Linked DNA regions of Homo sapiens: region 2 is linked to region 1. The links come from fine-mapping of genetic effects on gene expression. Tissue or cell type: cerebellar hemisphere. Region 1 holds a variant in brackets; the other region holds the start of a gene. All regions are shown on one strand. Distances are between the middles of the regions.

Region 1 (8,111 bases):
TTAGCTTTTGGTATACACTAAGAGGAGATATTTTTTCTGGCTGTGGATACGTACTGCCAAACTAATCCCTGAAAAAGACATACAAGGTATGAGAATTTGTATCTCACCATGTCTCAAGACGCATTATAATATGTTATAGGTTGTTGATGTTAAAGTTTATGACAACCATTTACATACTGAAATTTAAATATGTATATCTAAAAAATTTATTAGCAATACATGGATACATATGTTATTTTTAAACATTTAATATAGACGCATGTAAAGAAAATTCCCCTTTACAAACCTTATTCGTCACGCCACTTTTTTTCTGTATTACTGTTAAAAGCTTGGAATATATATATCCTTTCAAATATTTCATATGTAATCACATAAACACAATAAAATACACAAACAGCTTTTTAGTTTTAACATACTATATGAAATCATATTATTCATATTTTTCTTTATTTTTTTCAATTAATATATCTTGAAGAGTTTTCAGCACGCAAACAGTATCAAGCTTCATGGATTAATAAATATTTTCTGAATTAAATAATTCATGACAATTTCATAGAGATCCACCTAATGCTTTTAAATGGCTACATGGGAATTGATAATAATTAATGATGTAATTCCTTATATTTGTGTACATTTATGAGTATTTTTGTAGAACAGATTATCAAATAAAAACTGCTGTGCAGATTTGATAATTGTGCAATATATAAGTGTTTTAAAAATACATCAATGCACTAATGTTAAAAAATACTGTGCCAATTTATACCATCACCAACAGGGTATGCAGATACTAGTTTCACTACACTCTTACAAAAAATGAAGCTCAGTAGTCACTTTTATTCTTGCAAATTTCATAGGCAAAAAAAATAACCTATTAGAATCTGCATTCCCCTGGTTTCCAGTAAGAATGAGTATCATTTCAGGAGCTAAATTATTCTGCTAAGAATTTGTTATTTGTACACTGCCTCATTGTATCCTTTTTTTTTTTTTTTTACAAGGGTGTTGTTTTAAAATTGATACATGAGAGCATGTTATATATTGTGAGCACTGACCATTAGCCTGTTTTAAATATTGCAAATATTCTCTTCCAGTCTATCCTTTGCTTTCAAATTTATAGTATATTTTGTTACAAAGAAATTTCAAATCATCAATGTCTTATTTTGTCCCTTAGGTTTTTATTGGTCTTTAAAAAACTTATCTTTTTAAAAATTGTCTGAGGGAGTCATTTCATATCCCAAGATCAGATTGTTTATATTTACATATATATGTAATTTTTTTCTTCCTAATTTCTTTGGACACTTAAGTCTTCAGTCCACTTAGAACTGCTGCTATAGCATGGCATGACGTTAACTTTACCACAATATTTATAGACCCTGATGTTAATATTTTATCATATACTTAGTTATTAAACATAATAGTGACTATTTTAGGGCTGTTTAATTCCTCTGACTTGTCTTTTTATTCTTTTAGAGAAATCCTACCTTATTTCCTTTCATTTTTATTATTTTACATATATTTTAGTATCCAGTCGAGCAAGTCTTTCTACATTTGTATTATTTAAAAATTACATTATTTTAAAAAAAGTTTTTCTTAGCCATCTTTACATTTCTTGAAATGATTTTAAAAACAAGCTTAAATTTCCAGTGGGATTTTGGTTTGGACTCATTAAAATGATTGACTGGAGTAAAATTTGATATCTTTTAGTGATTATCTACAGGAGTATCATATGTATATTTATTCAAATTTTCTTTAATAGCTCAGTGAAACACTGCAGATGATTTCATATTAACTGCACACATCTTAAGATTATTTTTAAATGTTTAATGTTCTTTTGAGCAATTATCATAAGCACATTAGTGACTTTTTTAAAGAAAATATCTTACTTGAACTGCAGAGAAAACCTCTAGGACAGTATACAAAACTGATGTATCCTGCGTATGTATAATTTTCTAAGGAGAATACCTTTTTGAACAGGTCTAGTCTTCATTCAAATTTATATCCAAAAGTATATCCAAACCAAATACATATTTTTGTTTGATTCACACCTCTGATTTCTTCCATTAATGTAGCTGACCAAGAGTGAATGCATAGTGAAACATACATTTAAATAGTTAAAGCATTTAGTTTCTCAGAAAAAGAAAGGCAAATATATTCAATTTAATTGCAAGAGTGAACTGAAAAAATGATCTGAGAAGCAAATTGATCTACTGAAATAAAACAAATTTTTCATTTTTAAACAGTATCATTTTACAAGTTTAAGTGATGTTTTAAAAATGTGTCCAGAAATTGAGTGAGTGAACAGAAGAAAATGTACTGTTTGATCAGTTAATTATCTTTGCTATTTCATTTATATGAAGAATAATATACTTTTTAAAAGGTAAGTTAACTTCATGCTGAAGCCAAATGAATTTTGACCACCTAAGTTGTGGTTCTACCATGATCAACCATTTTATCTTTGCATTTTAGGAACTATAAATACTTTAAGTTTTCATAGACAAAATATTTAGAATAGGAAACAGAAACCACTCAAATAACTTGATGATGTGAATTTAAAAAATCCAAGTACCTTAACTTCTTCACATAGTTCAGTAAGTCGAGCTTCTACATCCATTTCCTCTGGAAGGAGTAAAGAGTAGAGGAAATATTCCAATGTTAGATATTTAATTTATATAAATAAAATTCCCATAAAAAACTGAAAATTAAGAATGATCTGGACTGTATTCAATGAATTAAATTTCAAGGTAACATATTTTCATAAACATATTAATTACATAGGTAATGTGATTATTAAATTCTACATTCTGATAAATATCATTTTTTATTTTTCACAAGAGTTAACACTGTCAAGGAAATATTAACTATATACATAAAGTAACTTGCACAACTGTGTCACAGAAAAGACCAACTATATAATTAGATTTTACTGTATTTCATATTTTATAATTTCCAGTACAGTTTAGTATTTTGTGTTATATATACATATGCCTTGCTTTCTTGTGTTTTACAAAAGCTATTCCTAAAATGCTCAAGTAAAATTAATTTTATCACTGAAACATTTAAAACATACCTGGTGTGTAGGCTATTTAATAAAAATGAATGTCAAGATCCTTTAATAGTTAGTTCCTAATGTATTTATTTTTCTATAAAATATTCTTAAACTGAGGCAGATATTTGCATAGAATTCTGATTTACTTAATGTATGCTATAATAATCTATAAAGAGGTGCACAAATTTACAATTAAAATGATAATATTTACCAGGAAAAACAGAAACTAACAAAATATAAAGATTTATAAATTATTTATTTTTGGCAGGGAGGAATTACACTAATGTCTGAAATATCTTTACATACACTTAATTTTTAAGTAGAAATCAAACAGGTCTTTTAAAAGAACTGTAACAGCATAGTTATAATCATACAAAATTCCCATAATCTTGTTGTGAAAGAGTTTAATTGATCTTTCTCACACAAAGGCAAGAACACATTCTATAACATCCCTGAATTCACTCATCAGCTGACTAATTTGTAAAACAGACTGAATGTTTACTACATGATAAAAATGATAAACATTTAAATTTGTTTAAAAAAGCAATCACAATTATGTGGTAAAAACACAACCACAGTATAATTGTTAGAGTGGGGAGACGGCCAGATACGAGCAGGCAAGGGAGCCTCTGGGCAAAGAAGTCCTGGAGATGTCGCCCACTGACAGCAAAAAGGACAACGGCTATATTGGTTATACCTGGCCTTGTGGTTGGGCTCCTGCGACCCTGAAGCATGTGCACTCCTCCAATAACTCACCCTAGAGTGGTCTTTTGCTCATTATAATAGTAAAAAACACATCCCTAGGTGGAGATTTTAAATGCTAACGAGACAAGCAACGTGTGTACTAGCATGTACAACTACAGAGCATGTATGCCCAAGGGGATCATCTAAAACATGATTGCAAGTGACACCTCCTCATGCCCTTTCAT[G/A]AATAATCATGTATTCTTCATAGAGTTCCCCAGCACTGGCTGCTGCTAGCTCACTCTCTCCAGAAGCTTGCTCTGCTTTATCTTTCAGAGTATACTACTGTCTCTTTAAATAAATTCTGCTGCTTAACCCTTGCTGCGTGTCTCTTGGCTGAATTCTTCCTTCAACAAGAATCAAGGACGCTGTACCCCACCCGGTAACATAAACAACAAATACTCTGTTGTTAACTAAAAATCAATGGAACACATGTATTTCATAACTCACAAAATATACAAGTAAATTGTATTTAGATATTGATATATACCAAAAAATAGATCACTAATTTGGCCAACTTGTTGGTAACTAAAGAAATTTGCAATGATTTCACAAATCATTTCACTGTTAGATAAACCAGTGGCTTCTAATATTGGGCTTTCCAAAACTAAAAAACCAGCAACAGACTCTGCATTAAAACCACCATCTGTTTTCACATTACTCATGATCTTTTCCTGTGACAGAAAAAAAATCAGTAAAGTTAGTCTTAGAAATTACATATTCTACCTCTGATTTTTAAAAATTAGAAAATAAGGTTTTGAGAGTTGTGACACATTTTTCTAATGTTTACATAGAAGAACCTAACTGCATAAATGGGTATGTTTGCATTATAGCTACTGAGAGCTACTTCAATGCAAACAGTATCTTAAAGAATGTTTAAAAGCATAATTTAACTCTAAAATCTTAGAACTGAAAATAATTTTGAAATCACTTAGATTTTTAAGGGAGTTTAAAATCCTATTTTAATTATTTTTTCTTTTTAAAGTGACATATATAACAGACCCTTGAGCAACATAGGTTTGATCTACGCAGGTGCACTTATACACAAGTATTTTTCAATAAATATTTTGGAAAGAATATGAAACTTGCAAACTATGTAGCCTAGAAATATTGAAAAAATTAAGAAAGATGAATATGTCATGATTGCATAAAAACATGTAGATACTAGTCTTTTTATGTATTAATCAACTGTTTATGTTATCTGTAAGGCTTTCAGTGAATAGTAGGCCATTAGTTGGTAAGTACTAGAGGAGTCAAAAGTTACAGGTATATTTTTAACTGTACAGGGGTCAGTGCCCCAGTTCTGGTGTTATTCAAGGGTATACTGTATATCCATTTATACAGTTTTATAGAAATGTATAAATGTGATGATTATCATATATTTCTGGGGGGGGGGGCTTGGCTCTTATTACTAATCCAAGGTTACAGTCTAGAGCATATCCTTCCATATTTTTCAAATATACATATACACATATGAGTTTTGGAGTCACTGTTTTATAAAAATAGGATTGTATTTTGCACAATTTTTTGCATCTTGCTTTTTTTCTCTCAGCATTACCCCACAGTATTCTGGTACCTAGCACTAAAGCATTTTTTAAGATGACTACACAGTATTCCTTGATGTGGGTGCATCATGATATATTCTGTATTCCACTCTTTGCCCAAATAATGGGCATTGATCTTTGTTTATACTGTTTTGCCACTAAGAACAATACTGCAATAAACATGCTTGTACCTGTATCTTTACATACTACCTAGTATGCTATTTCTATGATACAGGTGAACAGAAGTGGGGATGCTAGGTCAAAGGGTACATGTATCTAACATTTATTTTCTAAATCTATCCATTCATTCAACAAATATTTATAACACAGCTCAGACAACGGCAATACAATGTTAGGTTTAAGGATAAAAGATATCTCAACAAAAGTGTTAACTAACTTCATTATGTTTTAGTTTTGAAAATTAAGTATTTTTCTACTCAACCAAGATCTGGCCCATTTTTAAAAAATAGATCTTATTACATTAAACTGCATTCTGTAAAATTATTTAGAATGCTCACATGTAAACTGATAGGCTGGCAATAAAATAGTTTAAATTAGAAGTATATTTTAATTGCTAAAAAATGCTAAAATGTCATAAATGGCCACAGTTTCATACTATGAATTCTTTAATTTTACAGTAACTTTATATGAGAATATAATACTATGTTCCAGAAAGAATGACAATAAATTTTCAACTCTTCTTTTTCCTTCCTGACAAGAAAATCAGTTTCCCTTAACAGTCTTAGTGAAAATTAACACAACTCAAATATTTCTGAGTTAGTTTTCACCTGAGAAATGTTGAGATAGATTTTGGCTTTTTAACTTCCTTCATTTCATACCTCTGAAAATTGGGAAATAAATACTTATTTTATTTCACTTTTTGATTCCTACAGCTTTTCATAATTTTTTAAAAAATTGTGATGGTTTACTGAACGCAAAGTGAAAACTTTTAATATACTCATAGATAATAAATTATGGCTATTCAAGAAAAGTCTAACATATATATGAAAATGTATAATAAAATAATGAGATCAGAACATTTCCTTTACCATGCATAACATATCCAGAGAGTGGTGATTTGATGTTATTTTGCTTTTTAAATGTAGAATAACAAAAAATAAATGCAAATTGACTAAAACAAACAAACAAACATACAACACAACCCAGATCCTGATAGGATATTTCTCTTCTCTATTTCTTTTTTTAAAGCTTTTTTTTTTTTTTTTTTTTTTTTTGAGATGGGAGTCCGACTCTCTTGCCCAGGCTGGAGTGCAGTGGCACGATCTTGGCTCACTGCAACCTTCACCTTCTGGGTTCAAGCAATTCTCCTGCCTCAGCCTCCCATCTCTTCTCTATTTCTGCAGTGCAGAAAACTAGGTTTAGTTTTTTTTGAGGCAGAGTTTCACTTTTGTTGCCTAGGCTGGAGTGCAATGGCACGATCTCGGCTCACTGCAATCTCCACTGCCCAGGTTTAAGCAATTCCCCTGCCTCAGCCTCCGAGTAGCTGGGATTACAGACATGCGCCACCACATCCGGCTAATTTTGTATTTTTAGTAGAGACGTGGTTTCATTATGTTGGTCAGGCTAGTCTCCAACTTCTGACCTCAGGTGATCTGCCCACCTTGGCCTCCCAAAGTGCTGGGATTACAGGCGTGAGTCACCGCACCCGGCCTGGTTTAGTTTTAAAATCACATTTCATTATCACTAGGCCTAGCCAAAGATAAAATAACTGAGCAAATTTAAGGCGATGTCATTAAACCAACAAATTGTAGTAATAATCATGGTTTTGAAAAAGTGCTCTTCATAGAAACTTTAAAAAACATATGAAAAAAGCCAGTGAGTTTTGCATTTACCATTTCCAGATTTAAGTAAAAACTTCAATATTACAAATTAATTAGGAAATTAACCAAAATTTATCTACAAACCAAATTGATTTTAAAGGTAAGTTCTTCAGAATGGTGGAAACATACCACATTATTAAATATACATTTATGAAATCTGATGCTAATTTAAAGCAAAATTTCATACTTTTTAATTAAAAGGGATCATTTACTTAAGCTATTTGTAAACGTACCTAGATGGTTGTCTTTCTGTGTTCGTAGCTGTTTTCTTCTGAGAAGACGCTCATATAGGAGCTGCATGTTGGCCTTGGCTAGTCATAAGGATTGCACACAGCACTAGTTACTATACTCCTTTCACAACAAAACTTACTAGAATTTTCCAACTTGTTAATAATAGACTTAGTGTTGATCTGATAGTGCAGTTAGTTAATTAGCTTATCAAAATTACAAATGATGTACATTCAAGTATATATTTCTTTGGTTTTTTAATTTAAATGTATGTGCCACTCAACATTTCATAATCCAATATGTCTTAATTAATTAGACTCAGAATTTTAGGTTGGCAGGGATCTCAGAGTTAACTCCCTGCTGTTACAAGTGTAGATATTGGGGTTCATATAGGCTATGTGACTTGCCCAAACCTAATTCCAGAACTCCTGACTCTCATGTTCAGTAAGAGCTCCCTGCACCAAACCAATATTTAATTATATGTCATCAGAAAATGTACATCATTCATCTGGGAGAAAAGAGAAAGGCAAAAAAGCCGAAAGGAACTCAAGGCGTTATTTTAAAAGAGGGAACATATTTTAGAAAAGTTTTCAAAGCATAGTCAAGTTTAAGAAGTTTAAATATATGCTTATTTGAAAACTCAATGAAAGTGGTAAGTAATAGAAGGAAATATTCTTTAATCAAGAACTACTCTGTATCCACTTATTAAAACTG
Region 2 (8,111 bases), 76 kb after region 1:
AGAACATTTCATAACACTTAACAGAAATGTCCCAGACTACAGCCAGGCATAGTAGTTCATGCCTGTAATCCCAGCACTTTGGGTGGCTGAGGCGGGAGAATCACTTGAGGCCAGGAGTTTGAGACCTGCTGGCCAATATGGTGAAACCCCATCTCTACTAAAAATACAAAAATTAGCCAGGTGTGGTGGCCTGGGCATGTAATTCCAGCTACTTGGGAGGCTGAGGCACATGAATCGCTTGAATCCGGGAGGTAGAGGCAATACAGTGGGACTCTGTCAAAAAAAAAAAAAAAGTCCCAGTCTATTATCAATATATTTATAACATAATTTAGAAATATGTTCTATATTCTGTATGATCTCATAGAGACCTAATGCCATAAAAGGAAATATGCTATAATTTTCTCAGAATGGTTTCTCGGTTGAGAGATAGTTTATCAAATTTTTTTCATCAAAATAAGAACTACCTGAAGGGTTAGTTACTCAAGTAGGAGATGTCTCTTAATGGTATAATATGCCTGATACTTTTACATTTCTATTAGGAAAAAAGAAGCTAATATTTCTTCTAAATTTAGCACATTATCAATAACCAAGTATGTACCTGTTAACAACTGCCAATCTTTAAAAATAAAATGTGAACCTACTGTGGAGTTGTTTCACCTTATTCCTTCTGAAAAACCTAGACCTGCCTAATCACTTATGCTTTGTAACTTTTCTGAAAAACCACTGAGTCCATTAAGAATGATTTCTTCTATATTACCATTCTGCTTCTTATTCCTCTTTCTTTCTTTTAATTAGGAGAGGGTTTCGCTCTGTTGCCCAGGCTGGTCTTGAACTCCTGGCCTCAAGAGATCCTCCTGCCTCAGCCTCCCCAAGTGCTAGAATTACAGGCATGAGCCACCACACCCCACCTTATTCCTAGTCATCTCTAAACCTTCTTCCTGACAAACAACTCATGAAAAAACACTTCAAATCTATATGCCCTCAGCTCCATCCATTTATTTAAATGCACACATGTACATATAAAAAACTCAATGTTAAAGCACTTTTTCCTCAATACCTAGAATCAAAGCAAAGGAAATCCTTGGCTTTTCTACCCCCTAAACAGCCCTCACAACAAGGATTTAATGTAAACAAAATAAAGATTTTATTTAATGTAAACAAAATAAAAATATAAAACAGAAAATTAAGGATTAACTAAAGATATAGGTGTAACTCTTACATTTCCTTTCAGTGTCAACTCGTGGCAAACAAAAGGAATATCTGTTTTACAAACTGAATGCTGCAGTGTCTGTTTCACTGTGTATGAACATTAACTAATGTGTGAACATTAGTTAATGTACTAATTAGAAAACTCTAGTACATTAGAACTGCTGCTTCTCAAGGAAGCTTGCACTTCTTTCAAAGCCAGGTCATTTTATTTGGTACATCTATCTAGTACATTAGAAAAGTCTAATAGAGTGCTAGTCCACAGTTCACCAGCATTCTACTAGACTTTTCACAGAAGTCTGAAATTTAAAAAAGAAATGTTTGATTTGGGATTTAAGCAGTCAATTATACTCTTACTACACAGTCTAAAATTAAAGAGATAAAAACTAAGTATTTATATAGCAATTTTTGTCTGCGGTGGCCCTAAGCATGTTTAAATGATTAGGGCTTGCTTTGCTATTAATTACTTTACAGCTGGAGATACTGAGATACACAGGTTAAGTGGGTTCTACAAACTAATGTCATGAGTCATCATAAGAGTTCATATATTCTGACTAGAAATTCTAGTCTTCTGCCTGCTGTCCACCACAAATCCCTATTTAATTTATAAGAGCACAGGAACCAACTCACTAAAAATACCAGCAAGAATTTGTAGGCATTTACTTTTTTAAAATGAATGTTTACCTAAAAATAAAAAGACCTGGCTTTTTATTTGAAGGAAGTGCAAGCTTCCTTGAGAAGCAGCAGTTTCTTTATTTGCATTTGAAAAATCATTTTTAAAAAATCTTAAAAGCTGATGAGTGCATCACCTCTTACCATACACAATTGCTAGTTCTTCTCAAAGAAGTGTGGTTTGATGACACCAGAGCCTCCTAGTTTTACTTTAAATCACTTTGAATAAGGAACTACACTTTTTTTTTTGCCTTGGTATTTCCCTTCTTAAAACAGAAACAGAAAACTTAATTCCTACCTGACACAGACAACATAAGGAAGAATTTGTTTGTGGACTGCTTTGAGATTCCAGAACCAAATACATAATCCAGTTGATCTTCAACCCTACAATAAAGACAAACTTCACTAAACATAATTGCTTCAGCAGATGCCTTCAAAATAAGATACTATACCATTATTTATGGAAAGAGAAGTTTTATTTAAGCCAAATCTTGATCACAATGCAATGGAGGAAAAAAATTACAAAACCGTTTAGAAAGTTCTTCTGCTCAATTAAAAAATTTAATACTTCTCACGTATGTCTCCTATAAGCACACTAATTCTAAAGGTAGCAGAAATTGTATGCATTTATTAGAGAACAGAGACTCTCAGGAAAATTATGCAATCAATTGCAATAGCAAATGTATAAAACAAATTAATAATACATTTTAAAAAAGAAATTCTGTTAAATTTCATTTAAGATTAGTTCTTGGACAGCTACACCTAATGGAGGACAAGAAAATTTCCAAATTTTAAGTGTATGTTTGTAGGTCAACCTTTAACAAGTCTTAACCCATTATAGTTTCATTTAGTCTGTACTCAAGTTGCTTTCCCAGGCATGCCAGGTAAACATAATTCTTAAAAATTAAAGCTTTAATCAGTAAGTGTAACCGATTTGTTGCTACTGTCACTCTTTTGATGATACTTCCACCAACCGGTAAAGAAAGAAGAAATGTTATTAAACTGGAAGATGAACTAGAAACATTGAGTGGATACCTAGCTTAGGCAGAAAGCAGCAAGGACTAGAAGGGTATGTCACAAAGAAGTCTTCAGAGATTTAATAAAAAGTAAAACAAATGGAATGAAGTTAAGAGGCTTGACTTATACAAATGGGGGGGGGAGGGTGGAAGAGTTTTGGAGGGGAAAAAATTAAGATTAGAGACTCACTGGGTGCAGAATGGAAAAGGACGTGAGGATAGGGGCCATTAGACAGAAAGCGATGAAGCAGGGTACCAGAGGAAAGAGAAGGCAGTGAGGGTTTCCGAAGCTAAGATGGGGCATGGAATGAACTCCAATGCAAAGCGATGCTAAAGCAAAACACAATCGGCAACTAACAAAAAGGGAACCAGGAGGAAGTACCGAAAGGAGGTGGATGAGAGGAAAATAAAACCAAGGAAGAAATTATGGAGGTAACAAGAGTGAGAAACCTGGTCGGCCAGGGTAAGGAGCTCCGGACAGGGAAGAGCCAGGCAAGGGATGGAAGCACAGAGATACGCTGCTTCCCAAGGAGGGACCACCCGGGCAAAAAGACACGTGGGAGGCGCGGGATGAAAAAGCAGAACCACGAAAGCGGGTAAAGGAGGGACAGAGCGACGAAGATGGAGCAGGGGTGAAGGGCAAACACGCTAGGCGCGAGGTTCAGGAAGAACGGGTCGAGGGACGCGCGCAGGGGCAGGGGCGGCCGCGGGCACCGGGAGAGCAGCGCGCCGCGGCCCCTCGCCTCCCTCAGAGCGCTCCGCACCGCCGTCCCCACCGACCTTCAACGGGGCCGGGGCCAGGCTCCGACCGCCAGCAGTCGGGTGAGGGGCCGCGGCGGGCGAACGGCGGACGAAGAGGAGGCCGCTTCCTTCCTGGCCCCTGGGCAAGAGGGACGGAGGGAGGGGTCGTGGGTGTCGGGAGCCGGGGGAGCCAGAGGGGACAGTAAGGGGGTTACCTCTCGCCCGGCTCGGCCTCTTCCCCCGCCTGTCGAACGGAGGAGCTCGTTGTCCAGCTGCAAGAAGACGGCCCGACCCGGGTCAGCACCATCCCGCCCCGGGCCCCCTCACATCGCCATCACAGCAACCGCAAACACCGCAACCGCGGAGCCGGTTCGTCACCGCGGCTCGGCTACTGGCCCAGCGCGGCCAGCGAGCATGCGCAGTCGCCCCAGTCCCGAGGGAGCCCGGGCCAGCCGGCTATACCTGCGATCAACAGGTCCCCGGCCGCACGGCCCCGCCCCCGGCCTCTCTCACCTCCTCCTCCCGCCTCTTCCCTCCCCTCTCTGAGGCTAGGCCCCGCCCCTTCAAGCTCCGTGCCCCGCCCTTCAGGAGCTTCAACTGCCCCTCCAGCTCCAGCGCCAACTGAGATTTCGAGAGATTTGTCCTCCCTACCAGGCTCCCGTTCCCAAGTTCCCGCGAGAACGGGAGGTTTGCGTCAATAAAAGGCGCGCGTCAAGAAAAGGGGCTCGCTTGTGGGTTTAAGGGATGGAACTTGGAGGTGGTTGAAGAGTAGTGAACAAGAAGAGGGCAAAAACACGGAGTTCGAGAACTTTAGCCGTTTTTCTCACAATGTTGTTTCTCCTTTTCTCTCTTTAGCTCCTCCGTGCAGTCCCGGGTAGAGAGCCCGGTCCCTGCGCTAGTCGATTTGTGCAGTAGGAAAGGAGGCTGCAGGGGATCTGCGCCGGGGCAGGACAGATGCCTTTCGGGACCCAGTGTTTGCATCTTGGGAGATGTGGGTGCTGATCTGGTTGTTTCTTGGTTTATGACGCCAAAAAGGGCGGGAGGGGGCTGATGAAGTGAAGCCTTTCGCTAATACATTCCGTTAACAGAAGCCCACGAAGGATCATTGATTTATTTCACTCTTCCCTGTTTCTGAACCTTATCTGGCAAAAACTTTTGTGGTGCATAAAGTTCAGTATGTTGCTAAAGCTGAGTTAATGAAAGGAAAATTTCAGCTGCGACTCTTGTTTTAAAAATGAATCTAGGATGGATAGTGGTGTTGGTTGCACAACAATGAATGGACATAATGCTACTGAACTGTGCACTTAAAAATGGTTAAAATGGTAAATTTTCTGTTATGTATATTTTACCACAATAAGAATGAATTAGAAGGGAAAAGCTTTGTGCATTCATTTGAAAGTAATGGTGAGGTCTTGTAACGTAGGCCATTTAGGGGACAGGTTTTGAATATATCTTTGTACCAGTTTTTTTTTTTTTCGAGTGTGTGTGTGAGACAGAGCATTGCTCCGTCGCCCAGGCGGGAGTGCAGTAATGTGATCTCGGCTCACTGCAACCTCTGCCTCCGGAGTTCAAGCAATTCTCCTGTCTCAGCCTCCCTAGTAGCTGGGACTACAGGCGCACACCACCACGCCTGACTACTTTTTGTATTGTTAGTAGAGACGTGGTCTCACCATATTGGTCAGGCTGGTTTCGAACTCCTGACCTTAGGTGATCCACCCGCCTTGGCCTTCCAAAGTGCTGGGATTACAGGCCTAAGACACCGTGCCTGGCTTGTACCAGTTTTTACATGATTGGGTGTCCTCTTATCCTGTGAACCAATTTATTTGCATTTGTATGAATGGCCTGCTTTCCTGATTTCTAATTTGTCCCTTCTTTTATAGCCCTATACCATTTTACTATCCTTGCTAAACAGGCTTTTATTGCTTGTTTTGTGACTTGAACTTTAGCCTCAAAATTGGAAAGGCTTTTTCTGTTTTTTTTTTAGTTCCAGCCATGTCTTAGGAAAATATAGTAAACAACCAATTATTTGCATTTCCACGTCCGTGCATCCCTAAAACACACAGTGTGCCAAGATTCTTTCCCTGTTCCACGTTCTTTTTATTCAAATCACATTGTTAACTCATCTGCTGTGTGCCAGGCAGTGTGCTAATCTTGGAAGATACCAACATGAATGAAAAAGAACTTGGGTGGAGTGTTTGCATTATTACCCTATGATGTAATGTGTATAGTGCAGAGATAAATGCACAGAGAGCTATTGAAGCTCAGAAGAAGCATTAATCCAACTTTGGGAAGAGGTCATGGGTCAGGAAAAACTTCCAGGAGAAAATGATTCCAGAGAGTTGAAGTGGGATGTCTTGTGGTGGCGGTTGGGAGGAGTAAAGGGAAAAGGATTGCTTGAACAGAAGCTGTACAGTAAGAAACTGGTCTTTGTGCTGAACTAAAACTAAGACTTCTATGCCACTGTTTAGGGATGTGAGGCTGGAGAAGTTGACAAGGATCATGGTGAGCCTTCAAAAAAAGTCAAATCAGTTCAACCATTATATATATATATATAGCTTATTAGATATTTGCCAAATACTGTGCTAGTTACTGAGGGATATAATGAAAGTTAAGGGTCAGTCTAAAATCTCAGAGTTTGCAATCTAGCAGGGGTAGACAGGCATGTAAAAACAAAAAAAAAACAAGTTCTGCTACAGAGTTAAAATTGGGGTAGGTACGGGGTTGTCTGGGAACCCAGAAGAGGAGCACTTAACTAACCTAGAGATTTAGCAGGACTTCCTGGTAATTATCTATTGATAGAAGAATATAAAATAATCTCTTAAAGAAATAAGAAAATTCACCTGGGGTGGCTCACTCCTGTAATCCCGGCATTTTGGGAAGCCGAGGCAGGCAGATCACTTGAGGTCAGGAATTTGAGACCAGCCTGGGTTTAGTAGAGAAACCCCATCTCTACTAAAAATAAAAAAATTGCCGGGCGTGGTGGCAGGCGCCTGTAATCCCAGCTACTCCAGAGGCTGAGGCATGGGAATCACTCGAACCTGGGAGGTGGAGGTTGCAGTGAGCCGAGATCGTGCCACTGCATTCCAGCCTGGGTGACAGAGTGAGACTCCATCGCAAAAAAAACCAAAACGAACAGCAACAACAACAACAAAAACAATAAGAAATACGAAAATTTATGGCATCTACTGAGGTACAGACTACTAGAGAGTATAGCATACTGATCTAATTGTCAGATTACCTGGTTCTAATTCTAGAGTCTACAGTATACTGTGTTATCTTGAGAGTCTCTTATCTTCTCTAGGTCTGTTTTCTCTCAAATATAAGAAGATAATCACATTATATAGACTTTGAATTCCTTTAGAAATTTGTCTAGAAATTTCCTGATTCTAAATTTACTTCCCATATTTATCTTCCCAAGTTTGGTGTCACCCATTATGCTGCTAATAAACAGTTTTGTGTCACATTTAATGTACATTAACATTTTATGTTATATATGTGTCCTTTTCAATCTATGTTGTGCTCAAGGAATATAAGATTTGGAATCCTTTCTATCTTGTAATTGGTTTACATAATTTAACTTTGGCATGGAGTGTTTTTGAATGTTTGCTAAACCCTTCTAACTGTGGAGTATTCTCTTAATCCAAAGATCAGGTTATCTCTCCCTTTCTCGGTTGCACAACATTGGTTCAGCTAAAGATTGAGACAGTAGAAGAAATGAATATTGTAAATTTGAAAACAGCCTCATGAAGGCCGGGCGCAGTGGCTCATGCCTGTAATCCCAGCACTTTGGGAGGCCTAGGCGGGTGGATCACGAGGTTAGGAGTTCGACACCAGCCTGGCCAACATAGTGAAACCCTGTCTCTACCAAAAACACAAAAATTAGCCAGGCGTGGTGGTGAGTGCCTGTAATCGCAGCTGCTTGGGAGGCTGAGGCAGGAGAATCACTGGAATCCTGGAGGCAGAGGTTGCAGTGAGCCGAGATTGCACCACTGCACTCCAGCCTGGGCGGCAGAGCAAGACTGCATCTCAAAAAAAAACAAAAGAAAGAAAGAAAAAGAAAATAGCCTCATGAAGGATGTCTCATATTTGTCAGATGCTAAACATTAATTTACTAAAAAAAAAAATTAAGCTGGCTTTTTCCTTACTGGGCTTTATGATTTTTAAAATATTCCTGTTGTAAGTATGGTCATTATTTGAAAATTAAAAATGAGATATAGTCAAAGTTATTCCACAACTATATATATATGTACATACACACATATATATACACATATATATACATATATATATACGTGTGTATATATATACACACACACACACACATTTTAATTTCGACTTCTATTTTAGATATAGAAGGTGTATGTTCAGATTTGTTACAGGGGTATATTGTACCCAGATAGTGAGCATAGTACCCAGCAAGTAGTTTTTCAACCCACACTCCACTGCCTCCATTCCTCCTCTAGTAGTCCATAGCGT

The links. PIP is the estimated chance that this variant, and not a neighbour inherited with it, causes the effect.
Region 2: FAM135A starts here. The variant in region 1 is fine-mapped to the expression of FAM135A in cerebellar hemisphere (GTEx, PIP above 0.99).

The regions. Positions count from the first base shown.
Region 1 is chr6:70,485,536-70,493,646 of GRCh38, reverse strand. FAM135A (family with sequence similarity 135 member A) reads right to left here. Exons shown (of 22, transcript NM_001162529.3): 11 at 2,564-2,613. Among named protein-coding and RNA genes, the nearest start is that of FAM135A-AS1, 76 kb to the right of the region's middle. The variant G/A (reference allele first, on the strand shown) is at 3,973.
Region 2 is chr6:70,409,442-70,417,552 of GRCh38, reverse strand. It overlaps FAM135A (family with sequence similarity 135 member A), which reads right to left and starts at 4,045. Exons shown (of 22, transcript NM_001162529.3): 1 at 3,851-4,045; 2 at 2,177-2,262. It overlaps FAM135A-AS1 (FAM135A antisense RNA 1), which reads left to right and starts at 3,595. Exons shown (of 2, transcript NR_147708.1): 1 at 3,595-3,716; 2 at 4,491-4,725. RefSeq lists silencers at 3,529-3,678, 4,019-4,238.